Regions from separate parts of the Homo sapiens genome. Here regions 1 and 2 are each reported to be linked to region 3. The links are microRNA targets in miRTarBase. Many come from high-throughput screens and were not tested one by one. Region 3 holds a microRNA gene; each other region holds the end of a gene's coding sequence.

What was found. Region 3 holds the annotated microRNA hsa-miR-6832-5p (AGUAGAGAGGAAAAGUUAGGGUC, at 6,835-6,857, opposite strand). A microRNA usually pairs through its seed, bases 2 to 8, with sites in the 3' UTR of a target mRNA and lowers its output. Matches are read on the target gene's strand: a 7mer-m8 pairs with bases 2 to 8, a 7mer-A1 pairs with bases 2 to 7 and ends in A, and an 8mer does both.
Region 1: miRTarBase lists MIOX as a target of hsa-miR-6832-5p. Seed matches in the 3' UTR shown: 7mer-m8 at 7,231-7,237.
Region 2: the mRNA of NTMT1 is a reported target of hsa-miR-6832-5p. The part of its 3' UTR that is shown has no 7-base or 8-base seed match.

What each region holds. Positions count from the first base shown.
Region 1 is chr22:50,487,027-50,497,684 of GRCh38, reverse strand. It overlaps MIOX (myo-inositol oxygenase), which reads right to left. Exons shown (of 10, transcript NM_017584.6): 2 at 10,220-10,300; 3 at 9,943-10,023; 4 at 9,637-9,799; 5 at 9,343-9,410; 6 at 8,536-8,645; 7 at 8,390-8,457; 8 at 8,239-8,288; 9 at 8,041-8,153; 10 at 7,037-7,937. The coding sequence ends at 7,829. Among named protein-coding and RNA genes, the nearest start is that of MIOX, 5.5 kb to the right of the region's middle.
Region 2 is chr9:129,631,695-129,641,668 of GRCh38, forward strand. NTMT1 (N-terminal Xaa-Pro-Lys N-methyltransferase 1) reads left to right here. Exons shown (of 4, transcript NM_014064.4): 2 at 956-1,171; 3 at 2,360-2,612; 4 at 3,514-4,441. The coding sequence starts at 1,010. The coding sequence ends at 3,770. ASB6 (ankyrin repeat and SOCS box containing 6) reads right to left here. Exons shown (of 6, transcript NM_017873.4): 2 at 8,847-9,028; 3 at 7,708-7,814; 4 at 7,508-7,616; 5 at 6,879-6,965; 6 at 2,911-6,763. The coding sequence ends at 6,096. Among named protein-coding and RNA genes, the nearest start is that of ASB6, 5.5 kb to the right of the region's middle. RefSeq lists enhancers at 1-447, 8,403-8,960, 8,961-9,517.
Region 3 is chr6:31,630,921-31,640,648 of GRCh38, reverse strand. MIR6832 (microRNA 6832) reads right to left here and starts at 6,862; the gene lies at 6,791-6,862. PRRC2A (proline rich coiled-coil 2A) reads right to left here. Exons shown (of 31, transcript NM_004638.4): 16 at 7,657-9,510; 17 at 7,002-7,270; 18 at 6,660-6,790; 19 at 6,284-6,413; 20 at 6,092-6,177; 21 at 5,672-5,896; 22 at 5,377-5,517; 23 at 5,184-5,255; 24 at 4,900-5,067; 25 at 4,600-4,682; 26 at 4,230-4,440; 27 at 4,041-4,139; 28 at 3,704-3,916; 29 at 3,513-3,607; 2 more. The coding sequence ends at 3,063. BAG6 (BAG cochaperone 6) reads left to right here. Exons shown (of 26, transcript NM_001387994.1): 22 at 1-4; 23 at 121-264; 24 at 343-450; 25 at 1,003-1,149; 26 at 1,423-1,621. The coding sequence ends at 1,518. RefSeq lists a silencer at 5,807-5,970.

The DNA.
Region 1 (10,658 bases), not on the chromosome of region 3:
AAATACAACAATTAGCCAGGCATGGTGGCACATGTCTGTAATCCCAGCTACTCAGGAGGCTGAGGCAGGAGAATCGCTTGAACCTGAGAGGCGCAGGTTGCAATGAGCCGAGATCGCACCACTGCACTCCAGCCTGGGTGACAGAGCGAGACGCTGTCTCAAAAAAAAATAATAAAAATAAGTAAATAAATGAAAGTTTAAAATGGCAAGAGTGGCCCAATCTAGAGAAAATGTAATTTGGGAGGGAATAGCTCTCCCTTTACTGTAGCCTTATTATTATGGTATCGACAAAGCAATGTCATATTCTAACTCTGCAGAGATAAAATTTTAAGGGGCAAAAGTCCAAGGCGGAAGTCAAAAGTTTTGCAAGGAAATCGATGAGGTTGGTGATCTGAGCTGGGCGAGGTTGGACAGGTGGGTGCCACGGTCCAGGTGTCTGACTGTCTCTGTCTGGCAAGTAAGCAGAGATCTAGAGCTGTCCTGTGAATTAAGTGGGAGATTGGACAGGGGTGCACACTTGTGTATTGAGGAGAAGGTCGTGGACAAGCTGGGGCAGAGAGCTGGCAGAGAGAATACCCAGGAAGATTTTTTTTTTTTTTTTTTTTGAGACGGAGTCTTGTTCTGTCGCCCAGGCTGGAGTGCAGTGGTGCAGTCTTGGCTCACTGCAACCTCTGTCTCCTGAGTTCAACCTATTCTCCTGCCTCAGCCTCTGGAGTAGCTTGGATTACAGGCCGTGCCACCATGCCCAGCTAATTTATTTATTTATTTTTTTAATAAAGACGGGGTTTCACCATATTGGCCAGGCTGTTCTCTAACTCCTGACCTCATATGATCCCCTCACCTCGGCCTCCCACAGTGCTGGGATTACAGGCGTGAGCCACTGCACCTGGCCAGGAAGTTTTTGTTTTTTGTGTTTTTTTGAGACAGAGTCTCGCTCTGTCCTCTAGGCTGGAGTGCAGTGGTGCAATCTCGGCTCACTGCAACCTCCGCCTCCCGGGTTCAAGCAATTCTCCTGCCTCAACCTCCTGAGTAGCTGGGACCACAGGCGCACACCACCACGCCCGGCTAATTTTTGTATTTTGTTTGTTTGTTTTGGGGACGGAGTTTCGCTCTTGTTGCCCAGGCTGGAGTACAGTTGTGCAATCTCGGCTCACTGCAACCTCCACCTCCCGGGTTCAAGCAATTCTCCTGCCTCAGCCTCCTAAGTAGCTGGGACCACAGGCGCACACCACCATGCCCAGCTAATTTTTGTATTTTGTTTGTTTGTTTTTGGGATGGAGTTTCGCCTTGTTGCCCAGGCTGGAGTGCAATGGCGCGACCTTGGCTCACCGCAACCTCCACCTCCCAGATTCAAGTGATTCTTCTGCCTCAGCCTCCCGAGTAGCTGGGATTACAGGCATGTGCCACCACGCCTGGCTAATTTTGTATTTTTAGTAGAGACAGGGTTTCTTCATGTTGGTCAGGCTGGTTTCGAATTCCTGACCTCAGGTGATCCACCCGCCTCAGCCTCCCAAAGTGGTAGGATTACAGACACGAGCCACCGTGCCCGGTCAATTTTTGTATTTTTAATAGAGGCGGGGTTTCCTCATGTTGGCCAAGATGGTCTCGATCTCTTGACCTCATGATCTGCCCACCTTGGCCCCCAAAGTGCTGGGATTATAGGCATGAGCCACCACGCCCGGCCGAAGATGCTTTTAGCAGGAGAAGGATCAAGCTTAGATGCAGGCTTGGGAAAATAGGTAACTTGACCAAAGGGAGCAACATGAGATTCCACACCTGAATTTTGTATACAGTTTATTCAGCGGATTGGGACAGGAGCAAAAATAGATTTTCTAGGAACTACGGACTCCTGTGATTGGAGGGGTAGACAAAGTACAGCAGCATCAGACAAGCCCTTGCTGAGGTGCTGGGCGAGAAATCTCAGAGGTCAGGTAGAAGGCCCCTGTATGAAGAGGGAAGGTTTGGGAGGGCAACCTGACTTGTCTTCAGAAAAAGCTGGAACTAGTTGGCTTAGTGGTCAAGAGAGACTGGGTTGAAAATGAGGAATCAGCCGGGCGCGGTGGCTCACGCCTGTCATCCCAGCACTTTGGGAGGCCGAGGCGGGCAGATCACGAGGTCAGGAGATCGAGACCATCCTGGCTAACAGGGTGAAAGCCCGTGTCTACTAAAAATACAAAAAATTAGCCAGGCGTGGTGGCGGGCGCCTGTAGTCCCAGCTGCTGGGGAGGGTGAGGCAGGAGATTCACTTGAACGCAGGAGGCAGAGGTTGCAGTGAGCTGAGATCACGCCATTGCACTCCAGCCTGGGCAACAAGAGCGAAACTCCGTCTCGAAAAAAAAAAAGAAAAAGAAAAGAAAAAAGAAAGAAAAAGAAAAATTAGAAAAATAAACTTTTCTTTCTTTCTTTCTTTTTTTTTGCGATGGAATCTCGCTCTGTTGCCAGACTGGAGTACAGTGGTGTGATCTCGGCTCACTGCAACCTCCACTTCCCTTGTTTAAGCAATTCTCTTGCCTCAGCCTCCCTAGTATCTGGGACTACAAACACGCGCCACCACGCCCAGCTAATTTTTGTATTTTTAGTAGAGATGGCGTTTCACCATGTTGGCCAGGATGGTCTTGATCTCTTGGCCTCGTGATCCACCAGCCTCGGCCTCCCAAAGTGCTGGAATTACAGGCCTGAGCCACTGCGCCTGGCCAACTTATCTATTTTCTTTTGTTGTCTGTGCTTTTGGTGTCATATCCAAGGAATTATTGCCTAATGCAATGTCAAGGAGCTTGTCTTCTGTTTTCTTCTGAAGGTTAAAGTTTTAGTTTTTTTTTTTTTTGAGACAGAGTCTCACTCTGTCGCCCAGGCTGGAATGTGGTGGCACAATCTCAGCTCACTGCAACCTCCGTCTACCAGATTCAAGCGATTCTCCTGCCTCAGCCTCCTGAGTAGCTGGGATTACAGGCAAGTGCCACCATGCTCGGCTAATTTTTGTATTTTTAGTAGAGACAGGGTTTCACCATGTTGGCCAGGCTGGTCTCAAACTCCTGACCTCAAGATCCACCTGCTTCAGCCTCCCAAAGTGCTGGCATTACAGGCGTGAGCCACCGCTCCTGGCCATTTTAGCTCTTAAGTTTAGGTCAGCCGGGCGCTGTGGCTCACGTCTATTATTCCAGCACTTTGGGAGGCCAAGGTGGGAGGATCACTTGAGCCCAGGAGTTCGACACCAGCCTGGGCAACATGGAGAAACCCTGTCTCTACAAAAAATAAAAATTAGCCAACTGTGGTGGTGTGCACCTGTAGTCCCCCTACTACTCTGGAGGCCAAGATGGGAGGATCGCTTGAGCCCAGGAGGTCGAGGCTGCAGTCAGCTGTGGCACACTTCTTCACTTCAGCCTGGGTGACAGAACAGGACCCTGTCTCAAAGCAAAAAAAGTTTAGGTCATTGATCCATTTTGATTTAATTTTTGTATGTGGTATGTGGTGTAAGGTAAGTGTCCAACTTCATTTTTCTTTTTTTTTTTTTTTGAGACAGAGTCTTACTCTTTCGCCCAGGCTGGAGTGCGGTGGCGAGATCTTGGATCACTGCAACCTCCGCCTCCCGGGTTCAAGCGATTCTCCTGCTTCAGCCTCCAGAGTAGCTGGGATTACAGGTGCCTGCCACCATGCACAGCTAATTTTTGTATTTTCAGTAAAGACAGGGTTTCACCATGTTAGCCAGGATGGCCTCAAATTCCTGACCTCAGGTGATCCACCCACCTCGGCCTCCCAAAGTGCTGGGTTTACAGGCGTGAGCCACCGTGCCCGGCCCAACTTCATTTTTCTGCATGTGAATATTCTATTTGTCCAGAACCATTCGTTTTTGCTTGTTTGTTTTTTGAGATGGAGTCTGGCTCTGTTGTCCAAGCTTGAGTGCAGTGGCGAGATCTCGGCTCACTGCAACCTCTGCCTCCCGGGCTCAGATGATTCTCCTGCCTCAGCCTCTCCAGTAGCTGGAATTACAGGCATGCACCACCATGCCCAGCTAATGTTTGTATTTTCAGTCAAGACAGGATTTCACCACGTTGGCCAGGCTGGTCTTAAACTCCTGACCTCAGGTGATGTGCCCACCTCGGCCTCCCAGAGTGCTAGGATTACAGGCGTGAGCCACCACTCCTGGCCCCATTTGTTGAAAAGATCATTCTTTCCACCATTGAATGATTCTGGCACCCTTGTTGAAAACCATTTGACCATATATTGAAGTGTTTATTTCTGGGCTGTCTATTTAACCCCATTGATCTCTGTGTCTGTCTTTAAAGCCAGTGCCACACTGTTTTGTTTTGTTTTGTTTTTGAGACAGTCTCACTCTGTCAGTCAGGCTGGAGTGCAGTGTCGTGATCTCAGTGCACTGCAACCTCTGCCTCCCGGGCTCAAGCAATTCTCCTGCCTCAGCCTCCCGAGTAGCTGGGATTACAGGCTTTTGCCACCACACCCAGCTAATTTTTGTATTTTTAGTAGAGATGGAGTTTCACCATGTTGGCCAGGCTGGTCTTGAACTCCTGACCTCAGGTGATCCACCTGCCTCAGCCTCCCAAAGTGCTGGGATTACAGGTGTGAGCCACCATGCCTGCCCATGCTGTTTTGATTATTGTAGCTTTGTGGTAAGTTTTTAAATTGACAAATGAGAGTCCTCCAACTTTGTTCTTTTTTTTTTTTTTTTTTTTGAGATGGAGTTTCGCTCTGTTGCCCAGGCTGGAGTGCAATGGCGCGATCTTGGCTCACTGCAAGCTCTGCCTCCCGGGTTCACGCCATTCTCCTGCCTCAGCCTCCCGAGTAGCTGGGACTATAGGCGCCCGCCACCACGCCCGGCTAATTTTTTGTATTTTTAGTAGAGACAGGGTTTCACCATGTTAGCCAGGATGGTCTCGCTCTCCTGACCTCATGATCCACCCGTCTCGGCCTCCCAAAGTGCTGGGATTATAGGCATGAGCCACTGCACCCAGCCTTTTTTTTTTTTCTTTTTTTTTTGAGATGGAGTCTTGCTCAGCTGCCCAGGCTGGAATGCAGTGGTGCAATCTCAGCTTACTGCAACCACCGTCTCCCAGGCTCAAGCAATTCTCCCGTCTCAGCCCCCCGAGTAGCTGGGATTACAGGCACCCGCCATCACGCCAGGCTAATTTTTTTGTATTTTAGTAGAGATGGGGTTTCACCATGTTGGCCAGGCTGGTCTTGAACTCCTGACCTCAGGTGATCTGCCGGCCTCAGCCTCCCAAAGTGCTGGGATTACAGGCGTGAGCCACTGCACCTGTCTTCTTTTTATTTTTGGAGATGGAGTCTTGCTCTGTCGTTGAGGCTGGAGTGCAGTGGCATAATCTCAGCTCACTGCAACCTCCACCTCCCAGATTCAAGCAATTCTCCCTGCCTCGGCCTCCCGAGTAGTTGGGATTACAGGTGTCCACCACCACACCTGGCTAATTTTTTTTTTTTTTTTTTTTTGCGACGGAGTCTCGCTCTGTTGCCAAGCTGGAATGCAGTGGCGCAATCTTGGCTCACTGCAACCTCTGCCTCCTGGGTTCAAGCAATTCCCCTGCCTCAGCCTCCCGAGTAGCTGGGACTACAGGCACGTGCCACCACGCCCAGCTAATTTTTTGTATTTTTAGTAGAGATGGGGTTTCACCATGTTGGCCAGGATGGTCTCAATCTGCTGACCTCGTGATCCGCCCGCCTCGGCCTCCCAAAAGTGCTGGGATTACGGGCATGAATCACCGTGCCCAGTCTTTGTTGTTCTTTTTTTACCTTTTAATTATTTTGTTTCTTTTACATCTTTTTCCTTTTTATGTTTTCTATTTTATCTTTAGTCATCAAGAAGTAAACTTTTTTTTTTCCAAGATTGTTATGGCCATTTGGGTTCCCTTAAAATTCCATAGGAATTTTAGAATTATGTTTTTCTATTTTCCAAAAAATGCCTTTTTTTTTTGAGACGGAGTCTCGCTCTGTCACCCAGGCTGGAGTGCAGTGGCTCGATCTTGGCTCACTGCAACCTCCGCCTCCCAGGTTCAAGTGATTCTCCTGCCTCAGCCTCCGGAGTAGCTGGGATTACAGGCACCGACCACCAGGCCCAGCTAATTTTGTATGTTTAGTAGAGACTGGGTTTCACCATGTTGGCCAGGCTGATTTCGAACTCCTGACCTCAAGTGATCCTCCTGCCTCGGCCTCCCAAAGTGCTAGGATTACAGGTGTGAGCCACCGTGCCTGGCCAAAACCTTGTTTCTACTAAAAGTACAAAAAAAAAATTAGCCAGGTGTGGTGGCGTGGGTCTGTAATCCCAGCTACTAGGGAGGCTGAGGAAGGAGAATTGCTTGAACCCGGGAGAGGGAGGTTGCAGTGAGCTGAGATTGCCCCACTGTACTCCAGCCTGGGCGACAGAGTGAGACTGTCTCAAAAAAAAAAAAAAAAATTAAGGGAAGGACTGAAACATCGACCTGCCTTTCTATACGAACAGTGCCACTGTGTAGCCAAAGAGCACGTGGGAGGCAACTTCCACTTCCTGAAGTGTTCCCTGCGGCGGACGAGGACAGAAAGTGACCTGGGCTGTTCCATACCCAGGGGAGTGGGGGATCCGGATAAGCTTGAACGCCCACAGCTGCCCGCTGACAACACTCAGGACAGGCACCGCATGCCTCTTCCTCAGGAAACACCACTGCCTGAAAGCACTCGTGCCCACAACCAACCAAACAGGATCTGGGGAAGCCTCTAAATCCGTGCACCGATTGGCAGAAGTTCAGAGGAAAACGTTAACAGGTACAGAATCCCCACAAAGACGAATTTCCTGGGACAATCTACTTTCTTCAGAGATGAATTTCAGAGAAGATGGAGGGGAGGCCACTCTTTGGCACCAAGGGCTGCACGCCTGGGTGACAAAACCATGTAGAGAGGATGGACGGTGGCTGCAGAGCCTGTGGAGGGGCTGCTCTGTGCGGGGAGCCGCACCCGGGGCATGCGGAGGGTACTGGAGAGTCGGTTCAGGGGTGGTGGCCGCAGGTGTTTGCTTTATAGCATTTAAACTGTGCACTTGTTTTATTTTATTTTATTTATTTTTTTTGAGATGGAATTTCACTCTTGATACCCAGGTTGGAGTGCAGTGGCACAATCTTGACTCACGGCAACCCCTGTCTCCCGGGTTCAAGCGATTCTCCTGCCTTAGCCTCCTGAATAGCTGGGATTACAGGCGCCCACCACCACGCCCGGCTAATTTTTGTATTTTTAGTAGAGACGGGGTTTCACCATGTTGGCCAGGCTGGTCTTGAACCCCTGACCTCAGGTGATCCGCCCACCTCGCCCTCCCAAAGTGCTGGGATTATAGGTGTGAGCCGCTGTGCCCAGCCTGCATTTGTTTTTTGTTGTTTTCTATGAATGTATTATTTTAGCTATTGGGGTATTTTTTAAGGGGACGGAGCCCAGAGGACTTGGTGACTGTTTTGAGCATGTGGGGGTGAGCTGGGTGACTCGTCCCCCAGGCTCTGACACAGGAGCTGGGAGGATGGGCAGATGTTTACCACGGCCAGTGTGGTGGGACACACACACCTGAAAGCCTGGGACTTGGCCTCCACCCTGCTGGCACCATCCCTCGGCCTGGGCCACGCCCTGCTGCAGTAACACCCAGTGGGGCTTCAGAAGCACAACATCCTTCCAGGTCTTTATTGACGCCAGGCACAAGTTGCCGTGAGGGGTGGCGACCCTAAGGGGGTGAGTGGGGTCCCCCACCGAGGTGAACCCTGATGGCGGCTGTTTGCCCAGGGCCAGGCCTCTCCAGGCAGGCGGAGGGCCAGGCCTAGGTCCAGCAGCAGCTTGGGTGGCAGGAGGGTCACCAGCTCAGGATGCCAGGGCAGTACTTGTCAATGAGCCCCTGGTAGTAGGGCCGCAGCTTGTCCACGTCCGGCAGGTCCGGGCACTTGGTGTAGAGGTCGAACTTGCTGCAGCAGGGAGGGGCGGTGAGCCCCGTGAAGAACCCCCAGGCCCCCCACCCAACCCCCTCTTTCACTCCCACAACACCCCTCGGCGGGTAGCGGGGCGTACTTGAACTCCCGCACCCAGGGCAGCATGGCCAGGTCCTGCTGGCTGCACAGCTGCTGGTAGTCGCGGCCCGTGTGCCAGGGGTAGAAGGAGTGGAACCGGATCATGTAGAAAGCCTGCGGGCAAGGCCACCCAGCGGCTCACTTGGGGCTGCAGGACCGGGCCTGGTGGACGGGCTGCGTTGCCCCTCCCCCCACCTACCTCAGGGGGCAGTGAGAACTTGTTAAACTTCATCACCTGGTACATGTACTCTGTGGGGAGAGGGTGTCACCAGCAGGCACTGCCTCTGCCCCACCGCCCCCCACCGTCCCCCACCGCCCCCCACCGCCCCACTGCCCGCCTCTGGCCTCACCATCATGGCCCCAGGACATGAGGACCCTGTCGAGCCCACAGTGGGGCTGATACATCCCGAGCTCTGTGCTGCAGTGAGATACCAGGGTGAGGAGGGCTCAGCAGCCGCCCAGGGAAGGGGGCCCAGCCCTCAGCAGCAGGGAGCACCTGTATCGAGGATCCTGGAGGTCAGGGTTGTCCTGGAAGGTGGAGTCGCAGAAAACCACGGAGGCCTGCGGACGGCATCCGACGGGGAAGGTGTCGCCGACGACAGCCCACTGCAGAGGGACAGGAGGGACGGGAGGCCATGGGGGGAGTGGGGGAAGGTGTCGCCGATGACCACCCACTGCAGAAGGACAGGAGGGACGGGCGGCCATGGGGGGAGTGGGGGAAGGTGTCACCGATGACTGCCCACTGCAGAGGGACAGGAGGGACGGGCGGCCATGGGGGGAGTGGGGGAAGATGTTGCCGATGACTGCCCACTGCAGAGGGACAGGAGGGATGGGAGGGACGGGAGGGACAGGAGGGACGGGAGGGATGGGAGGGACAGGAGGGACAGGAGGGACAGGCAGCCATGGGGGGCCGTGGGGGAAGTGGGGGAAGGTGTCGCCGACGACCGCCCACTGCAGAGTGACAGGAGGGACAGGCGGCCATGGGGGGCCGTGGGGGGAGTGGTGCGGGGAGGCCGTGGGGGGTGCACTGGCCTGTCCCCCAGGTAGTATCCCAGGCCAAGCACCGAGGCCACCAGAGGGACAGGCAGCCGTGGGGGGGGCCGTGGGGGGTGCACTGGCCTGTCCCCCAGGTAGTATCCCAGGCCAAGCACCGAGGCCACCAGAGGGACAGGCAGCCGTCGGGGGGCCGTGGGGGGTGCACTGGCCTGTCCCCCAGGTAGTATCCCAGGCCAAGCACCAAGGCCACTCCACCCCCACCTTGCCTCAACATGCAGCCTCCTCACCCTCCACTTCCAACTCTTACCTGGGGCTCCCCGAACAGGGCCAGGACCTTCCCCAGGTCGTGCAGGAGCCCGACGAGGTGGAACCAGTCTGGGAGGGGGATGGACAGGGCAGGTTGGGGACTGCAGGGGCCAAGGCAGAGGATGAGCAGGTTTGCGGGGCTGAGAGCCAGGAAGGGTCCAGGGCCTGCTCCCCAACCCAGGCAGGGCTGCTGGAGGAGGCCTGGGCCCACTACTGTCCCCTCCCACCCTACAGGCTGCTGCATTCTGCCCCTTGGAGGCAGCACCTGCCCCCCTGCAGCACAGCCAGGGCTCACCCTTGTCTGGGTGGGCCTTCCGGATGCCCTCCGCTGTCTGGAAGGCATGGAAGGAGTTGGGGAAATCTACGTCCGGGTCCGACTCATCCACCAGCCCATCCAGCAGGTCCACGGCCTCCATGACTGTCATTTTCTTGTAGGAGAAGCCCCCAAACTGGGCATGCTGGCGGGGAAGGAGAAGGCAGTGTGGCCCAGGGTCAGCAGGCCCACCACACAGGCCTCTCCATCCCCTCGGCGCCTGGTGGGCTCATGGGGCTGAGGGCAAGGGTCCCTCCGCGTTTGCACGGGGCGGCAGGAAACGCCTACCTTGCTCCTGACGAAGTCCACTGTCTGGTGCGTGTGCATGAGCTTGTAGGTGGTGAAGACACGGTCCAGGAGGGGACCTGACTGCAGGCCGGAGGGTCAGTGGCGCCACCCCCACCCTGCACACGAGGCCCCATGCCTCCCCTCTCCCAGGCAGCCCCACAGGGTGTGATGGGGGTGGGAGTTCCCACAGGGCACCCCCTGGAACTGTGTGAAGGGCAAGTGCTGCTCCCCAGGGTGTGGATGGGGGAGAAGGGGGGCAGGACGGCAAGGTACTCACCGTGTAGTTCCGGAAGCTGGCCTTGTCTTTGGCCACCTCTGGGTCCACATCAGGTCGGTAGACCAGGGAAGGGTCTGGGCCCTGGGTAGGTGGAGGATTGAACCTATTTCACCATCATGTCAGCTCCACGAGGAAGCACAGACATTCCCAGGGTGGCTGCAGACTCCAAGCCTGCCTCTGCTCGAGGGCTGGTGGGTGACACGCGAGGACACAGCCTCTCCCACGCCATCATCCCAGCCCCTGCCCTGGCCTCAGCGAGTCCCAGGAGCTCTCACTCCCAGGTCCTCATCTGCAAAGCGAAAGTCAGCAGACGTCTGCTTCCGGGGTACAGGGGACACCACGCCTGAGCGGCACCCATGGCCACCCTTGAGGGGTGGAAGTGGCTTTGGGAGGAGACTGAGTCCACAGGGAGCCTGGGGGTCGGCAGCCGCTGGCTCTT
Region 2 (9,974 bases), not on the chromosome of region 3:
GTCTGTCCTTCCCTCCAGGAGCAGTGCCGTCGCCCTCCACCTACTGCGCTTATTCTTGCCCATCCATCGGTTTCAGCTTACGCGTCCCCTCCTCAGGGATGCCTTCCCTGGTCCCCGCACCCGACTCCACTTCCTCCCTCCGTGCTCTGCTGGCACTGGCGCTTCTCCTCTGCAGCCCTCCCTGCAGGTGTGGTTGTGTCTGTAGAATTGTTTTCTGCCTGGCTGGCTGCCTGGTTCACAGCCCGGTGCCTGGCACAGAGTCCCCACTCCTTGTTAACGGAGGACTGGACCCCACCGTGAGTTGTTGCTGTGCTCTGAGCCAGAGGAAGGGAGGCGTGGAAGCTTCCCTGGCCCTCCAGGGTCTGCTGGTGCTCTCGGCTTTGCGGTCGTTTCTCTTTATTGATCAGGGTTTTCTGTGCCCTGAAGCCACTGAGTCAGGTGTCATATAGAGCATATCAAGAACTTGAAGCCAGGCCAGGCACATGGGCTCACACCCGTAATCCCAGCACTTTGGGAGGCCAAGGTGGGAGAATCTCTTGAGGTCAGGACTTCAAGACCAACCTTTGTAACATAGTGAGACCCCATCTCTACAAAAAATAATTAGCCAGGCATGGTGGCACACAACTGTAGTCCTAGCTGCTCCGGAGGGTGAGGTGGGAGGGTCTCTTGAGCTCGGGAGTTGGAGGCTGCATTGAGCTATGATCACACCACTGCACTCCAGAAAAAATAAAAATGTAAAAGAACTTGAAGCCAGGACTTGGGGCGGGTGCTCTGAGTGCAAAAGACAGAAGATGCTGTTATCCAAGGGGTAGAAGCAGATTTGGGGACCCTGGACTTCTCTCTGCACTCAGCAGGATGTGTGACTTGTGAAGCCTGGTGTGAGACTGGCCCTCTGCCCTGGGGGCCTTTCTGCCAGGTCCCTGGCCCGCTGACTCACGCCCCCTTCCTTACCCAGGAGAGTCGCGGTTGCTGATCGTGGTGCTTGAGTAGAGCCGTGGTTGGTGACAGCATGACGAGCGAGGTGATAGAAGACGAGAAGCAATTCTATTCCAAGGCCAAGACCTACTGGAAACAAATCCCACCCACGGTGGACGGCATGCTTGGGGGGTATGGCCACATCTCCAGCATCGACATCAACAGCTCCCGGAAGTTTCTGCAGAGGTTTTTGAGGGTAGGCAGGTCTGGCGTGCTCTCCAGGAGAGGCTGTGGCTCTGGTGGCACTGCCGAGTCCATGTGGGGTGCCACCTTTTACACATGTAACACTGCAGGATTGTTGGCTATCTCTTGGTACCTACCCCAAAGCCTTGAGGAGCTGGGCTGGGTGGGCACAGTGGGGTAACTTCTAGATTGTGGACTTAGCCTCAGGGTTACCAGACAGGAGCTGGCTGTTAGGCAGAATTGAGGTGCCTGAATTGGGCAAACCTCTCTTCAACTGTTGGGTTTTGCCAGGGACGAAACCCTTGCTCTCCTGCCATGTCCACGGGTGTTTGGACTGAGGGTGTTGGCTATTCTGGACGAAGACTCCTAGTTATGTGCCATGGTTTCCACCCTCTGCTCCACCCCCAGCCTTTTCTGTACCAGGCTGGGACCCCCAGTCCTGGAGCCCCCCACCTTCTTGTCTCATGGCTGGCACTGGAGGCTGCTGTTGGCCACCTGCTCCATCCAGCGCCTCCCCTCCCTCCATGTTCCCTCTCTGCACCCTTGTTCACCTGTTGCCCCGCTTCCATTCTCCCCATTCCTCTCTGCCGTTGTTTACCTGGAGACTCAGGAGAGATTAGTGCACCTGTTCAAGTTATCACCTTTAAGTGGAAATTAGCTTTCATTTAGAAATGTGTGGCCCAGGGCAGGGGCAGTGGCTCACTCCTGTCATCCCAGCCCCTTGGGATGCCAAGGTGAGAGGATTGCTTGAGCCCAGGAGTTTGAGACCAGCCTGGGCAACAGACCGAGGCCCCGTCTCTACAAAAAATACAAAAAAAAAAAAATGAGTTGGGCATGGTGGCGCATGCCTGTAGTCCCAGCTACTTGGGAGGCTGAGGTGGGAAGATGGAGGATGGCTTGAGCCCAGGAGTTCGAGGCTACAGTGAGCCATGATCCCACCACTGCATTCCAACCTGAACAGAATGCAGAATGCAACCTGAACTTTCAAAGATAAAGGAATGTGTGGCCCAGCAGTGTGTCCTCCCATGCTCATCCCCTCGACTCCGTACAAGCTGGCAGCCAGCACAGACCTCCCCACCAGTGCTCAGCTTGTGCGGAGTCCTGGAATCCTGACTTGAGTCTAAGTCCTAGGGCTCGTGAGGAAGGGCCGCACGTGCGGTGACAGGGTCCCTCTGATAGGTTATATGCCTCTGCTTTTCAGGAAGGCCCGAACAAGACAGGAACGTCCTGTGCCCTGGACTGTGGAGCTGGCATTGGGAGGATCACCAAGCGGCTGCTCCTGCCGCTGTTCAGAGAGGTGGATATGGTCGACATAACGGAGGACTTCCTGGTTCAAGCCAAGACCTACCTGGGGGAGGAGGGCAAGAGGGTGAGGAACTACTTCTGTTGTGGGCTCCAGGACTTCACCCCGGAGCCGGACTCTTACGACGTGATCTGGATCCAGTGGGTGATAGGTGAGGGTTCCACCGCCCTTCCCTGCTCACCTGTATGTCTCCTGCCACTCGCGTTCCCCATAAGGTGTCAGGACCAGGGCTTTGCACTCCTGCAGCAAGTGGGCCAGTGAGGATTCCCCACCCCGCCCAGGCCCACCCCCACCCCGTACTTCCCAGGACTGAGGGACAGGCTCGGCCTAAAAGGTAGATTTCTTCCTTCTAGGTTTTGTTTCAGTTGAATACCTGCTACCATCCATTTGGGTGCAGTTTTTTGTTGAAAAAATTTTAATGGCCAATAACTTACTGCATTCAAAGTGAGGAGTTTTATAAGGGTTTTATTTTTAATAAGATGAATAGTTTAAGCTTCGTGTCTAGCCCTGCACCCTCTTAGCCTAACAGCACACCTCGAGCGCTGTGCCCTGGGCTGCTGACGTGGCGGCAGGCCGCTAGCAGCAGTCGGCCACCTCCTGAGGCGGGCAGCACAGGCCTGCTGTGGACACTCTAGGTCTGGCCTTGTATTTTGTGGTCTCAGAAGCCTTTGTGGGGACTTCTAGTGTAGGGAAGGCAGTCTCTCTGGGAGCTCCTGCAATGCCAAACTCTTAGCCCAGGTTCACTCCTCCGATCCAAGCCTGGCAGGGGTGGGGCATCATGGTGTGTAGGTATCAGGCAGGACTTGTAAGCCATCCCGTCAAGTCAAATTCTGGCTTAATGTGTCTTTAGGTAGATGACCTCTGAGCCACAGTTTCCTATTCTATGAATTGGGGTTTAGTAAATCTCTCGGGACTGAGAGCCAATGAGGCCATGTGTGCACACAAAATGCTGGGCACAAATGAGGGGCTCAGCGGGGCTGAGAAGTACATCCCATCCAGTGCCGACATCCGCTTGCATGGTGCCCTGGTAACCTTGCCTCTGCCCTCCCCAGGCCACCTCACCGATCAGCACCTGGCCGAGTTCCTGCGGCGCTGCAAGGGCAGCCTCCGCCCCAACGGCATCATCGTCATCAAAGACAACATGGCCCAGGAGGGCGTGATTCTGGACGACGTGGACAGCAGCGTGTGCCGGGACCTTGACGTGGTCCGCAGGATCATCTGCAGTGCAGGCCTCAGCCTCCTGGCCGAGGAGAGGCAGGAGAACCTCCCCGATGAGATCTACCATGTCTATAGCTTTGCCCTGAGATGAGCCGGGGCTGGCAGGAGAAACTGAGGAACCACAGTCCTGGTGGGGGGAGCTGGCAGCTGGGCAAGATCCAGGCGCCACGCTGGCGGTTCGTGAGTGTCGAGGCACCACTAAATATAGCTGTCTGCCGTCCACTCATTATGCGGGCTCTTCTTCAAAAGGCAAGGTGGGACCCGGCGGGGAGGGTGCTGCTGAACCAGCGGTGAGGCAGGAGCCCAGACCCTGCTCTCCTGCGAGATGGGATTGGGTGGAAGGGGCTCCAGGGCTCCTGGTGCTCCCCATGTGGGAATAGGGTGGCCACATCAGTAACCGATTCCCTGGGCCTCCAGCCCGGCCTTCCAGCCATGGGCCTGGCTGCCTGAAGAGGAAGGAAACCACCCCCAACTTGGTTGCTGGGGACTTGAAGACTTCAGTGTGATCTTTACCTAGGGGAGGGACAGAGCTGGGCTGGTGGAGCCCATGGGTGCTGCCTGATGGTGCTGTGGGGTGGGTGCTCATGTGCCAAGTCCTGCTTGGCAGTGGAGACCTGGGGCCCTTAAAGTGTTACAACAGCCTGCAGCAAGGGAAGTTCCCCGTAGCCTCAGTCTTCTCTGGGCTTGAGGCTGCTCCTTGGCAGGCATTTAAAGTAAAAAATAAAATGGGGCTGGGCGCGGTGGCTCACGCCTGTAATCCCAGCACTTTGGGAGGCCGAGGCGGGCAGATCACGAGGTCAGGAGATTGAGACCATCCTGGCTAACAGGTGAAACCCCGTCTCTACTTAAAATACAAAAAAAAAAAAAATTAGCCAGGCGTGATGGCGGGCGCCTGTAGTCCCAGCTACTCAGGAGGCTGAGGCAGGAGAATGGGGTGAGCCCGGGAGGCAGAGCTTGCAGTGAGGTGAGATTGCGCCACTGCACTCCAGCCTAGGTGACAGAGCGAGACTCTGTCTCAAAATAAAACTAAAATAAAATGGGGGCCGGGCACAGTGGCTCATGTCTGTAATCCCAGCACTTTGAAAGGCCGAGGCAGGCGAATCACCTGAGGTCAGGAGTTTGAGACCAGCCTGACCAACATGGCGAAACCCCGTCTCTACTAAAAATACAAAAATCAGCCAGGCATGGTGGTGGGCACCTATAATGCCAGCTACTCAGGAGGCTGAGGCAGGAGAACTGCTTGAACCTGGGAGGCAGAGGTCGCAGTGAGCCGAGATTGCACCATTGCACTCCAGCCTGGGTGACAGAGTGTCTCGAAAAAAAAAAATAATAAAATGGGACCTCCACACTGTGGAGGCCCTTGCCAGTCTAGAGTGGTGCTTCTTTGCAGGGACTTGGAAACAACCCCCCAAACACAGCATCCCCTCACACCTGCCACCCACTTCCTTACCGGCTGCTGTGGGAGCCTCTATCCTGAACTATGGAGGGGCGGGGTGGAAATTTTATATAAGGACCTTGTTAAGGCCAAGAAAGTCAGTTTAATCTTATAATATAAATATATCATTTAGTCACCTCAGCTTATCCCCAGAGGTGTTTACACAATTCCCAATGACCAGTGCAGCTTGGAAGGGACTGAGGCTCGCAAGTGGGTGGCACAGTCGGCTCTTCAGTGGCTCCAAAGTGAGCCCCTCACAACAGGAGACACTTCAGAGAGGTCTGTCCCCAGCCACGCACTCATGATTGCTTTTTAGCAGAAGTCATGGTCGCTGAGGCCCTGGGTTTGGCAAAAGCACAGCTGCCAGCAGAGCACAGTTCTGGTAGGTGGGGCCACGGCTGACCTGGCCCCAGAGCTACAGGAACAGGCAGGGGCCAGCTTGGCTTGCAACACCATGAAACAAGCCTGTGGGGCCCTTAGTGTCTTCTCCCGCAGAGCCCACCAGAAACACTTCTGTGAGTAACAGAACCTGGAAGGAAAAGGGGCAGGGGTGGGGCCTTGGTGGCACCGCACAGGACGTGCCCCAGGCTTCCTCTCCAGCTGCACTGCCACGTGCGGCCAACAAGAGCCCCGCAGCCCTGGGGTGCTGAGGCTTGGTCCTTCCCAGCTTCTGCAAATGCCCTGGCACTGCCCTCCAATTCAGAGGGTATAAACATCAATCCAAGCCCTGTTCCTCTTTCCAACATGGGGGGGACTTGGAGTGCCGCTGGAGGGAAGGGGGCAGTCTCTCTGGAAGAACCAGAGCTGCACCCTTCACCACTGGAGTGATCACAGCTTCAGGCTCTACCTGGCTGGCTTTTCTCATGAAGGATCCCGTCTCATCTCCCAGATCAAAAAGACCCTCTTCTAATGCTGTCCCAGCATCTACCAACAGGCTGACCTGAGCTGCCCGTGTCCCCCGTTCCTGTAGCCTGAGACCTATCAGATGTCATCTTCCACGGAGCCACTGTGCTCGCTAAGGAGGTACCACTTCAGCCTGTCGGGCAGAGGCAGGGCTTTGACCTTCACATCCACAGGCCACGGCTGAAGGTAGAGCCGGATGGCCACACGGCACAGGTGCTTGAGGGGCGGGGGATAGCTCTCCAGCTGCCTCAAGGAGAAGTGGAGGGCCTGGATCTTTTCCGCCAGGCTGCCCACAGGGTGGATATCGAAGTTTTCGGGCAGCTGGAGTTTCTGAGAGTTGGTCACCATGAGATCCAGGACAGTCTCAGCTTTGCGCAGGAGGTCCGCATGGCTCTCGTCTTCCGTGCAGCCTGGGTGGGAACAGAGCCTCTCAAAGATGATGTGAAAGCCAGACCAGCAGGACGCACCGTGCAGGGAGCAGTTGTAGGCGGCTCCGGACTCCAGGAGGAAGCGCAGGAGAGGGAAGTGCAGTTTAAAGCTCTTCAGGCAGATGTGGGTGAGGGACTCGTGGGCTGGGCACTCGCTGGGGTCGGCCCCGTGTGCCAGCAGCAGCCGTGTGACTTGGAAGCAGAAGCGGTTGATCATCTGGGCCTCCTCTTTGTCCCCTCCCACGGTCTCACCAAGCAGGAAGATGATGCAGGTGAACACTGTGTCCCCATCTTTGGTGGTGGCCTTGACGTCTGCCCCTAGAAGAGCCATAGAACAAGAGATGCTGGGAGAAGGCCTTCAACCCTGGCAAAGCAACAGCACACATCGAAGGGGCGGGTGAGAGGACGAGGCCTAGGAGCGCGCCAGCCTCACCTCCTTCCAGTAAGAGACGAATGTTCTCAGTATTGTGGATCTGCACCCCGTCGCTGCTGGCCAGAGCATGGAGCAGAGCAGTTTTTCCTAGGGAGGGAGGGAGAGCAAGGAGGAGCAGGAGGCCAGGAAGCCCAGGTCAGGGCAACCCAGAGGAGGTGGCAGAAATCCAGACACTCAGAGGATCAGAAGATGAACTTTCAGAGACAACTCTCAGCTCAGGTGAGGGCTGAGGGTGACAGGCTTCTGGCCATTCCCTTTCCACCCAGAGAAGTGGGAGCGGAAAGGCCAGGAAAGGTAGGATTTTTCTGGACCCCAAGATGCTACCTGAGATGTTGGCTGGGCCTCTCCCAATGGGAAGCCATTGTTTCTTGGAAACTAAGTGCACACATGCCCTATTTCTTCCTATAGAAGGCCCTTGAGGGCCAGCACAGGGACAATGACTGCACTGCCTCTCTGAAGCCTCTGAGCTCAGCAAGTCAGCAGAATCCCTGTGTGCCCAGCCATGCTGTGCCACCAGCCAGGGCCAGCATCCAGTCTGCCCACCTAGCTGTTGTCCTGGGGCACCCTGGGTGTCCCCCACAAGGTGCCTGGGGGCCCAGCTGTCCTGCTTTCCTGCAGGAGGCACCCACCATGCTTGTCAGCGGCATTGACATCAGCTCCAAGGTCCAGGAGGCGCTGCAGGCAGGGCAGGCGCTCAGGCTCCTCGCTGGCCAGGTCCAAGGGGCTACTCTCGTGGATCTGAGCCAAGGAAGCACAGCCAGGTTGGCTTGGGAAGCTGCTCAGGCCCCTGCCCAACCCTGCTTCAAAGCAAGCTGGACCTGGCACTTACCCGGTCCCTCCGATTAACGTCGGCCCCGTGATGCACCAGCAGCTCCACCATGTCCGGCTGGTTCCGCAGGACGGCGATGTGCAAGGCCGTGTAGTAGGTGACTGGGTCTGAAGGTGCAGACACAGCTCATGTGGGTCCTATCTGTCCGCATTCTTATGGGGCCCCCGGACCCAGAGCCCAGCCCCAAACTCCCACCTAAAGTGTCCAGAAGCACAGGCCCAGCCTCCTGTCACCATCAAGGGTTAGGACAGAGCTGTCCTCACCAGATACTAGAGGGCCCTCGGGGTGTTCTAGTGGGCACGCTACTGAAGCTGTTGGGGGCTTTAGTTTCCTCTTCTGTAAGAAGGGACCATAAAACGGGGCGCACCCTCTCAGAATGGCTGGGAGGCCGCGCTACACAGCAGCTCTGGCGGCTCTGCTTTGTAGGCCTGGTGGTAACAGCCAGGTTCTCCAAGCTGGTCTCCAAGTCACTGGCTTCAGAACCGGCCCTCCCGTCTCAGCTCCTTGACCCTCCAGGAGCCCAGCAGACTCCAAGCCCGTCTTCGGATGGGGAAAGGAGACGTGCCTGGCTGTCTCAGGCCCCTATTAGGTCACAAGGCAGCCCTGCCTGTCTGCCGACTAACCCTGCCCTCCCTGGGCTGAAAAACACAGAGAAAGGAGCTCGGCTCCATCTCCATCCCTGGCACTCAGGAGCCAGGAGCCAGGGTGTCCTGTGGTGATTTATGCCTAATGCAGCCTGTTTTCCCCTCTCCCTACGGCATGAGAAAAAAAAAAACAAATTGGCTCAGAGTAAGTAGCAGAAAATTACCTTCCCTTAGCTCTGGGCACAGTGCCAGCAGCCGCATTTTTGCATTAATGGAAGTGGGGATTAATCTGGGAGCTGGGGAAAGTTTGCTAATCAATCACATGGTAGAAGCAGCAACACTCGCTCTTGGAACAGAGGTGGGAAGAGCCATGTGAAAACCCGCAGGGGGTGGGAGGCCACCCAATGGGAGTTTCCTTAGTTGCAGCCACCCAGGAAATAAAGGGGGGGAAGTCACTCCTCAGAGGATGGTAGAAGCCAAGGCTGGGGACATGGGCGCCCACCCAGCGTCGGGCCGCGTTTAAGCCACCTGCCCACCCCCGGGGCTCTCGCTGACCTTCAAAGTTGAGATTGGCCCCATGCCGCAAGAGAACGTCGGCCGCCCGCGTCAGCCCCAGCTCAGCCATCTTGAGCAGGGCGTTGCTCACGCCTTCCTGGTAAAAGGGAGAGTGGGCTTTCCTCTCCAGCAGCTCAGTGAGAACAAGGATTCGGCTCTCCTCGCTGGCGACATAACTGGGCCTGGGACAGGAGAGAGGCTGAGGGTAGGCACAGCTGTGGGACCGGGTGACCGCGCAGCCTGTGGGTTGGTGGGCTTTAGTCCTGCTATCATCATCAGCAAGCAGGGCCCTGGCTCTGTGGGTCACAGGGGCTTGGGGGAAGCTCTGAAGTAGAGAGAGGGCCACGCTGCATCTCTTAATACGGGAGCAGACTGGGATTTGCGGAGAATGGGCTGGGTCTGTCTGCGCTCTCCTCCCGCGTTGCCCAGAGTCCGGTCGCAGACTTAGGTACAAAGCCTCACACACCTGGGCTGCTGGGACTGAAGGGACCACCAGCCTGGAGGCCAAGAGCCCAAGCCCGACTTTGATGCTTCTTCCTCAGAAAGCCCTTCCATCCTCAAACCCGCAGGACCCCAGCCCCGGCAACACCTGCAGCCAGGACAGCAACACAGCCTCCTCCCTCCCCTCACATTGAGACCTTCAGCTGATATTGATGAAGAAAGCCTACGTTTCCACCAGAGTCCCTGGATGGCGAGACTCATCATTACCACGTGTTGGAAATACCAACTGACAACCCCCTCAACACCTGAGCCGAGCCCCTTCCTTCTGCTCTCCCCTCCCTTCCACCTCGCGTGCCGCCGTACAATTACTTGTCAGTCTCTCCTCTGGAGCACATGCGCCAAGAAGGCGGGGGTTTTGCTGAGCCACTGATGGACCCCAGGTGCCTAGTACCATGGGCAGTGAATGCAGATTCGCTCCCGACCCCTTTCCTGCAGGTCCACGACAGACCAGCTCTTGTCTATAAAAACGCAAACTCTGCTACAAAAGCCCACCTTCACACTGCTCTGGGGTAACATCTGAGGCCTCACGGATTCCACCCTGCTCCTCTGCCACGCCGGGGGGTGGCACAGGACAGGCAGGCGACAGGGTGGGGCTGAGGCGCAGGCCCTGCGACAACCCGCGGGCCT
Region 3 (9,728 bases):
TCAGGTACTCTAGAGAGGGGGAGGTTGAGGGGCCAGATAATGTGGAGTGGAGGGCTGGGGGAGAAAGGTTTGGAGGCTAAAAATTCTGAAGCCTGGCTCTTCCCGCCATCTGACACCCAGCGGGAGAATGCTTCCCCAGCCCCTGGAACAACAGCAGAAGAGGCCATGTCCCGAGGTCCACCTCCTGCTCCTGAGGGGGGCTCCCGGGATGAACAGGATGGAGCTTCAGCTGAGACAGAACCTTGGGCAGCTGCAGTCCCCCCAGTAAGTGTCAGGAAGTAATCCAGTGGGTCATGGCAGCTGAAAGTCAAGGACATTACTATTTTCTCTTTTCCTCCCCAGGAATGGGTCCCTATTATCCAGCAGGACATTCAGAGCCAGCGGAAGGTGAAACCGCAGCCCCCTCTGAGTGATGCCTACCTCAGTGGTATGCCTGCCAAGAGACGCAAGGTTGGTTTTCCTCTTCCCTAAGCCTCTCTCTCTATCCAGGTTTCCCCGTCATGCCTGGAATCAAACTATGTAGAGATGGTGGGAGCTCTTGTTATTCAGTCTCCCCTCCCCTCGTTTAATGAGGAAACTTTTTCTGGGATTCAGACTTGCTCTTGGTTGTTGCATAACCATACAGGACTTGACCTTAGTCTGTTTGCTAGCAGTCCTGTATTAGTTGCTCAGCTGCCTAATCCCCATGTGCTTAGATCCCATTTTCCTTTAAGGTGGGTTTCCTCTTGTGGATTACCTAGCTCTGAATCCCGGATGGCTTGACCCCTTCTGCCTTTCGTTTTGAAGAGCACGTTCAAGCACATTCACTTTAGTTTTGGCTAGTGCCAAAGAGAATTAGGAAGGCATTTCTGCTGTAAAAACCACATCCTGGACTCTTAATTTCCCCTCTCTCCACTAGCATGGAGACTCAGTGGAGTGGTTGACTCATGGAAAGGGTGAGCCGGATGGTGGCACTGGATCTGACGTTGATCCTCTTTTCCCTCCCAACCCCCTGTCCCCCAGACGATGCAGGGTGAGGGCCCCCAGCTGCTTCTCTCAGAGGCTGTGAGCCGGGCAGCTAAGGCAGCCGGAGCTCGGCCCCTGACGAGCCCCGAGAGCCTGAGCCGGGACCTGGAGGCACCAGAGGTTCAGGAGAGCTACAGGCAGCAGGTGCCACCTTGAAGCAGAATAGGGATGGTCTAGTGGGAGGGGTTGGGCTAGGGTCCCTCTTCCCTGGATCCCTTCAGCGATGAACTGGTCAGCCTGGTGCTACCATTTGTTTTCCCCTTTGGCATCTGGGAAGGCTTGACAGTGCCACCCCGGGCTATTTGACAGTGTGCTTGGGGGGGGAAATGTTAGCTTCTGAGGGATGGCCTTGTGTGCTTGCTGGGATCATGGGGACTTGGCCAGCGTTTCTCCAACCTGCTTACTTTTTCTCTTTAGCTCCGGTCTGATATACAAAAACGACTGCAGGAAGACCCCAACTACAGTCCCCAGCGCTTCCCCAATGCCCAGCGGGCCTTTGCTGATGATCCTTAGCTCTTTGCTCTATGGCCCTTCCTCATCAGGGGACCGTTTCCCCCCTCTTCCTTCACAGTATTTAAGAAATAAAAGTCGGATTTTTCTGGCTGCTTTCTCTCTACATTGTCTCCATTAGGTAGTGTGTCCCTTAATCTTGTGTGAACTTTTTTAAATTAATACTTCCTTGGAACACTGTTGTGTTCTACTCAGCACGCTAAATTGTACAAGCCAGTTTTGATGTTTGTTTTTTTTTTTTTTTGAGACAGAGTATTGCTGTCTCCCAGGCTGGAGTGCAGTGGCCCGATCTCGAGCTCGGCTCACTACAACCTCCACCTCCCGGGTTCAAGTGATTCTCACTCATGCCTCAGCCTCCTGAGTAGCTGGGACTACAGGCGTCCGCCACGACGCCCGGCTAATTTTTGTATTTTTAGTAGAGACAGGGTTTCACCATATTGGCCAGGCTGGTCTCGAACTCCTGACCTTGTGATCCACCCGCCTTGGCCTCCCAAAGTGCTGGAATTACAGGCGTGGGCCACCGCGCCCAGCCTGATGTTTGTATTTTTTGTGCGAAAGCACTTTATATATAAATAAAAAACCTGTATTTTGAGTTGGGAGCATATTCCAGGTGCACACTAGCATAGAGCTCTCAAATTACCCATCAAAAAAAGTTTCTGAGCAGCTGCAGACCTAAGTATAGTCTTTAGCATAACTAGCATGCAGCGTTACCATGTGAAATCCCACTTAGTTTGACAATGCTGGAATTGGTCTATCCAATTCAAAGAGCCCCTTAAGTGTGCTCCAACATTGAGGCCTTAACAGAGATTTCCCCTTAGTTCATCATAAAGAACTGAAGTCCCATGGCTGCAAATTCTTTGCTAGTCCCTTTGAGATGCAGTTGAAGTCCCTTCTAAACCCCCCCATCCCCTACCTTGGCTAGTTTAGTGCTCTTATCAACTAAGCATGGCATAAGCTTAGAAAATTCCAGCTAGACCTCTTGGAACATGAGCTCACGGACATTTAACAGGCCTGCTGGAGAGTCCATGTGAAGACACTGGTTGATAACCCAGTAATGTTACAGATGTCCCACCAAGGCCCTAGATATGCAAAGGAAGCCATATTGGGACCAGCCCAGGTGTCAGCTGCAGACTGATAACCAGTTGACCTCGCTCACTGGCACAAAAAAGCAGATTTATCCAGCTGAGCTCAGCCCAAATTCCAGACTCACAAAAATTTAAAGATCCAATACGATGGTCATGTTTTTAGTTTCAACAGCTCACTGGAATAAGTAATGAATATTTCCCTGACTGAAACTACAGATCACTCAGCACCATGCTTTAAGACAATGCAAACAACTCATCCCCCAAATCATTGTAGAAGTTTTTTTTTTTAAATCCTTTTATTACTCTTTTTTAACAAACAGCCCCAGGGACAGGGGACCAGGGGAAGGGGGAGGAGGGGAAGTGAGGCCCCAGCCCCAGAACCCCTCCCCGCCCACCCCTTTCCCCCTTATATATTTATAATCTATATACAAGCCCCGGGGGTAGGGGGCAAGAGGAACTCCCTCAGCGGGGTGGGGGCAACCCAGGCTCCTTGTCCCCTCGGGACCCAGGCTCCTCTGCCCGTCGGGAGGGCCCTTCTCGAGGTGGCGGCCCTGTCCGCTCCCAAGGCTTAGGTATCCAGCGCAGGGCATCTGGTGGGGAGGCCTAGGGGACAGGCATGTGTTAAACAGTGAGTCACAGTGAGAGGTCAGCGATGAGACGGAAGGACAGGAAATCAGGTGGCAACTCGAATTTAGAGTTGGGGCCACAAGGGTTTCTCCTTCACCTGCTGGTAAAGGTCGACGCGCTGGGTGCGGAAGACTCCACTGTAGGTGGAAGGCGTGGCCTTGAGACGGGAATTGAGGCCAGAGAAGGACCTAAGGGAAGAAGGGCGTCTAAGGCAAGCCTAGGATCCAGACCCTGGTTCCAAAGTAAGGAAGCACTTGGAAAGTCCACATCCCTATTCCGTTTCACCTTCCAGTTGGGGGAGTCCGTGATGATCCAGGTCCCCCAAGGTTGCTGCTCAGTTTTTGATAATCCTGGAACGGCTTTAGTTCCACTGGATGCAGCTGAGGGGAAAAAAATCATGAGCTGCCTACCTTGAAATACAGAATCCCTACTCCCAAGTCTTGGCGCTCCCTAGCCCCTCAGTTCCTGTACCTTACCTCTGCTCGCCCCAAGCTAGCGGGGAAGGGCCTGGCAGGTGAAGGCAGCACCCGAGTAGCAGGAGCAGGTGGGGGCCGCACAGCCAGGCTGGGGGGCTGCAGAGCAGGGCCCACAGGTAACAGAGAAAGGGGAGGTGGGGCAGGAGGTGGTGCTGGCGGCAGGGAGCCAAAGTTCACCACAGGCAGCTGTGAGTCTACCATGGGTAGAAGCATCTGTAACAAGAAATTTGGGTGTGCATGTTGGGGGCAGGGAGGAATGTCAGAAAACCAGGGAAAATCAAAGCCAGCAACTGGACAGAGAAATCAAATGAAGGGGAAGTGTGAAGATACAATATACCTGCTGGGCAGGAGCCCCTGAAGGGAGAAAGCCACTTTGGCCACCAGGCTGCAGAGGAGTAGAATAAAAATCCGAAGGGGATGGCAGATCCTGGCGTACCTGTCGGGAAACAGGGAGAAATATATCAACCCCCACAAAATCATTCTCCCTACCCTATCCCCCAATATCTAATACCTGCCCCCCTCTTACCTGAAGCAACGATGTGTCAGGCAAAGGACTGGGGCAGAAAGCCGGAGAGTAGAGGAAGGAAGGTGGAGGGTAGAGAACTCCTCCAGCCGGCAACTTCCCCAGCTCTGTAGCTTGCATTGTGGAGAAATCCAGAAACTGGCCCTTGAGAGCTAACCCAGAGAGCAGTGCTGAGGGAGGGGCTGGGCCGGGGGGTAGGTATAGGGGCTGTGATCTGAAAATAAATTGTGGGGAGAAAAGCTGTTAGGAAGCCAGAGTCCTAGCAATGCCTTAAGTCCACTAGCTTCTAGTACCCTAGAACTGTGTCTTCCCCTTCCCTCTCCCCGAAACACATCTCCAAGTACTTCTGTGATCCACAGGCATCGAGTCTTACCTGTAAGGGTGCAGTGAGGGTGTCCCAGGGCGGAAGCCTCCACTGTTTGGATGTAATTGAGAGTCCATGGCTCCCCCAGAGATCTGCAGGAGAGGAGCACGGTTGAAACAGCTTTAGTATCTGTGGTCAAGAAAAAAGATCACCATCCCACCCATAGAAGCAAAAAGTAGGGAGAAAAATGATGTGACAAAGTGGTATCTCACAACTCTGCAACGTAGAAAGGCTTGATTATAAATACATACCAGGCAGAAAAAAATTATTATTCACTGAAGGGGTCATGCAATGGGAAGCGGGGCCTACCTGAGAACTGGAAGGCCCAGCACTGCCATAGAAAACCTCAGGATACAGGCGCTGGCCTGAGGAGCTGGGCTCCGGGACACAGTGCCCAGAATCCAGGTTCTTGGATTGTGGCTCAGCAGAGGCAGCAGCACTGGGAAGCAGCTCCCAGTCTCGTGATACAGGAATGGCCTGGGAAGGAGAGGCCTCGTGGAGAGGGATGTCTGGCATCCTGGACGCCCTGGTCACTCCCAGCAATCTTCCCCAGAAATCTTGGGCCTTTCCACCAAACTCTTACTCCCACTTACCTCAGTGACTGATGCTGTTAGCTCCTTCTCTGCTTTCAAGCTGTCTCCTACCACTAGGCGTAAGTCTGAGTCCTGTGATCACAAGAAGGCAGGAGACATTGTCCCGTGACAGACATGTGTCCTCTATGTCCCACCTTTAGTCCTTCCCTTCTCTCCACCCAACTCAGGATACCCAGATCCAGCCCACACAGACCTTGTCACTAGTGCCAAACTGGACTGGGGGACCAGGTCGATGGGATGGCCGAATGGGGCCAGGCTCTGTGCCTCGGTCTGTACGCTGTGATCGTTCTGTGCCAATGGGGCCAGGGGGCAGAGGCTGCTCCCGGGGCAGCTCCTGGATTGGGCACACAGTAAAGTGCATTGGGGGAGGGAAAGGGAAATCCAAATTGGAATGCCCAGAACACACACGCAGAGAGAAAAAGCAGAAAAAGGTAGGGCCAAAGTCAGATTCCTGGAAACATTCCCCTTATCCTTTTTTGGTCTTTTACCTTTCTGTCCCCATCGTGGGGGGCAGGTGGTGGTCTCCTAGGAGGTTCAGAGCCAGGTGGACCCTCACAAGGAACAGCATTCAGGGGTGAGGAGCCTCCAGGCCTCTTGGGGGGTCCCTCTGCTGCCCCCTTGAGTCCTCCATCAGGGGAACTTCGCTGGCTGCAGGGACCTGATGACACCTGAGAATCCCCACTCAGGTCCACCCCACTGTCAGACTGACTCATCTGAGAGGAGTGGAGAAGGAGCTAGTTAAGTCAGGGTAGAAAGCACCCCAATACCTGACTGATGCACACATACAAACTGCAGAAAGGGGACAGCCAAGTGAGAGAACAGCTCCAGACTCAACCCAGAGCAGGTGGGGGGTATGACCAGTGCTCAAAAAAGTCCCAGCTCAGACACACCCTCCCACCCTCACTCACTTCTGTGCCAGCCACATCCTCAAAAGGACTCAGGGGCTCCATCCAAGGCTCCATGGAGCTGGGCCGGTAACTCTTTCGGCTAGTGGCTGGAGAAGGGAGCACCAACCAGAAGAGAAGTGAGGAGATGACAGTTCAGAAGCCCCTCTCATTCTTAACCCTTCTACCATAGTCCTTTCACTCAGCTTTACTCACCAGTATGTAAACGGTTCCAGATGTGAGGGGTCAGGGCCTCTGTGCCTGTATCTCTGGACTCTGCCTGAGGGCCTGGGCCCTCAGGCTTAGAGCCCAAGAATCCAGAGCTATGAGGAGGTGGCAAAGATTCCTACAGATGAGAAGGGCCAGAAGCAAAACATGAATTGGGTGGGAATTGGGAATTATAGGAAGCCAGGACAGAGTGGGGTGACACAGGGTGTGGGGACAACAAGGGAGACACATGGGAGACTAATACTGAGAATTCTGGAGTAAAAACACAGTGAAAGAAACAGGAAAGAAAACAGAGAAAACATAACCCAGAAGAATTTTCACGAGTAAGAGTGCAGTGAAGCACAATCTCAAACCCATCCCTTACCTCCTGTAGCAGCTCTGGTTTTCTGGGAGGCCGCTCCCGACGTTTAGGGGGAAAGGGACTAACCCCGGCAGAGTCCCGAGGAGTCCCACCCACCCCTCTCACCATTGGCCCCGGCTCCTCAAAGTGGGGGTCTGGGAAAGAGAAAAAGGGTCAGCATCTGCCTGGCTCTGCCACTGACCCTAACTTTTCCTCTCTACTCCACCTCCCAATTCTTCTACCCTTGCTCCCTGCAGAAACGCACCCAGCAGCAGGGTCCCTAGGCCAGGTTCTCCACCCGCTCCCTCCAGCACTTGACCTTCTCTGGGGATGGAGATATTCCCACCCATAACCCCTCCAGCTTACCAGAACTGAGGCCGCTGTTGACCCTCTGGGGCTCGTATCGGGTTGGGGGCCTAGGAGAGGGGCCCTGAGGGGCTTGGGGAAGCCCAGGCTTGTGCCTTGGATGACCCCCTGGTGCAGTTACACTCCCTTGACGGCTACTAAGCTGGGCCAGAGCCTGTTGGATGCCAGCAGGGTTGCTGTGGATAACTTGGTCCAGGCGGAAGACAGCAGAACTGCTGGGAGGTGGGGGAGGCAGGGGAAGCCCCGGGGGACGCTCCTCTGGAGGACGACTGGAGAAAACAGAGCATTAGCTCCAGTATCCACTAAATCGTTACTTTTTCCCACAAGTTATGTTTCCCAACTTCTGCTTACAACCTATTCTCTTCCCTATTAAAGTCCAGGTGTTTTTGAGTCCTTCTAAGGATTCCTATGCATACAGATGCACAGACTGGAAAGCAAAGAACCAGCAATGAATACATAGGTGGGTGTTCTTGACTCTAACACCCTACCAACCGCTTTCCAGTTGCCTTAGCCAGACATGGAAATCCTACTGACATTCTAGAGCCCATGGCCCCTCAGGCCACAATCTCCACTCCACCCAAACTTATCTTTCCCTCAGGCTTTTTCCCCCTCCTCCAATTTTTAAACCACAATAAATTTGTTTGTTCCTACCCACCTTCGGTTCTTGGGAGAGGGCCAGCTCCTCTTGTCGCCTCGTCCTGGCCCGGTCCTTCCTCCAGGACCCCCACCGCCTCCTCCACTGCTGCTGCCACTGCTGCCAGCCTTGCCCCCTGGGCCAGGGCGCCGATTCTGCCGTTCCATGCCTGGCCGCTGACTTGAGAAGCTCCGTTTACTCAAATCCTTGGCTCTCTGGCTCAGATCTCCGCGGGACATGGCTGAAATACCTGGTACGGCTCCACCTCCACCTCCCCCAGGAGTTCCCACAGCCTTGGGTGTCAGCAGTACTGGTGGGGGTGCCTCTTTGTCCCCTCGGCGCTCACTGGTGAAGTCACTGCTCTCTGATGCAGTCTCCCATTCCTCATTGGCTTGGTCTGAGTTCTGGTTTGACAGATCAGGAGACTTGGCAGCTGCCCGGCGAGGTGCTGGGGCCACTGTGACTGTTGTGAGGGCCTCCTCAGGTCCAGGAGCGGAGGCTGGAAGGGTTAGGGAGGGCTTGCCCTCAGACCCCCTTGCGGCATTCTCCCGTTCCTGCTTCAGCCTCCGGAAACGAGGCGGTTTATCCTGCTGCTGAGCCCTCCCATGTCGCCTCCTTCGGGGTCGCTCCCCATCTTCCATGCCCACATTGCTACCTCCATTGCTGCCTCCGCGCGCCACAGGGGACAGAGGCCCTGGGATCAACTTCTCTTTCAAAGGCTCCTTACTTGGTGGCAAAGGGCCTGTGGGAGGTTTCTTGGGAGCCAGAGACTTGGCTGGAGGGCTCCAGCCTGGGCAAACTTGAGGAGGGGGCCTCCCTCCTCCTCGGCCCCGGCGAGATGGCACCCCTCTGGGAGTGAAGACTCGCCCACCCCGGGCAGTGAAGCGGGCTGGGGCTGGTGAAGGTGGGGCTCCTGGTGGTGGGGGAGCGAGAGGGACCTGGGTGAGTGTTCCCTCCTTGGGTGTGGGAGCCTCCTTGTCTGAAGGAGCCAGATCACTCTCATGGGTCTCGCTGCCTGTTTCTGAGCCCCGCTGCCGGCGCCGCTTGGGGATTTCCTCATACTCTGAACCCTCGCTCCGTGTCTCGCTGGCAGTGCGGCCTCGGGGAGCAGGAGGGTGGTTTGGTCCCCCTGTCCCACCTCCACGCCCATCATCTCCTCGAAACTCTCGGTAACTGCGGAATTCCCGGCTTCGGGCTCCCCGCCCTCGTCCCCCATAGGTCCCCCGAAAACCCCTCCCTCTGGCAAAATACTCGCCTCGGCCCCGACCCCGGCAAGAGGTAGGACCCACTCTTTCATACGAATAGTCCCTCCGAAGCCTTGGGGCAGGGGAAAGATTTCCATTGGGTGGGGTCTCCTTGGGGCCCCCTAGCTTCCCCTTGGTTATCTTGAGTGGGTCTGGCTTTGGGGGTTTGGGGGTTTCATCCCCCTGTTCGAGGGGCTTGGGAGGCAGCTCTTCTACTTTTGTAGGTGGTGGAGGTTTCTTTATAGGCCCAGCCCGGCGGGGTGGGGCCCCTGGCTCCTCTGGAGGGATTCCACGACGACTGCTCCCTGGACGAGGGCCCCAGCGGGTCTCTGTGCGACTCTCTCTGCGTGGTGGTGGGGGGCCCTGGCCTCCACTCCCGACTCCGCGGGCAGGCTTTCGGCCTGCTTCTGGCCCCGTCAGCTGTGCAGTCTCCTCCTTAGGGGGCTCCTTCTTGGGTGGTGGAGTTTGTATCTTGGCCACTTCATCACTGCCTGGGGGCCAGGGGAGTGGACGGGGCCCTGGTTCCTCCAGAGGAAAGCGAGAGATTGGGGGCCCAGGGGCTCCATTCTCAGGAAAGCCTGGATAACTGGCCAGATAGGGTGGTGGGGGAGGTACTGGAGGAGTCTCGCTCCTGAAGAGACAGACAGAAAGAATGGAAATAAGTATCTCAGGAAAACCAGAACTAGGTGGGAAAAGAACACTTTATTATGATGCAGACTCTCTTTTACTATTTTTCTGTTTGTTTTGGCAGAGATGGCATCCAGTTGCCGAGGCTAGTCTCGAACTGCTGGGCTCAAGCAATCTTCTTGCCTCAGCCTCCCAAAATGCTGGGATTACAGGCATGAGCCA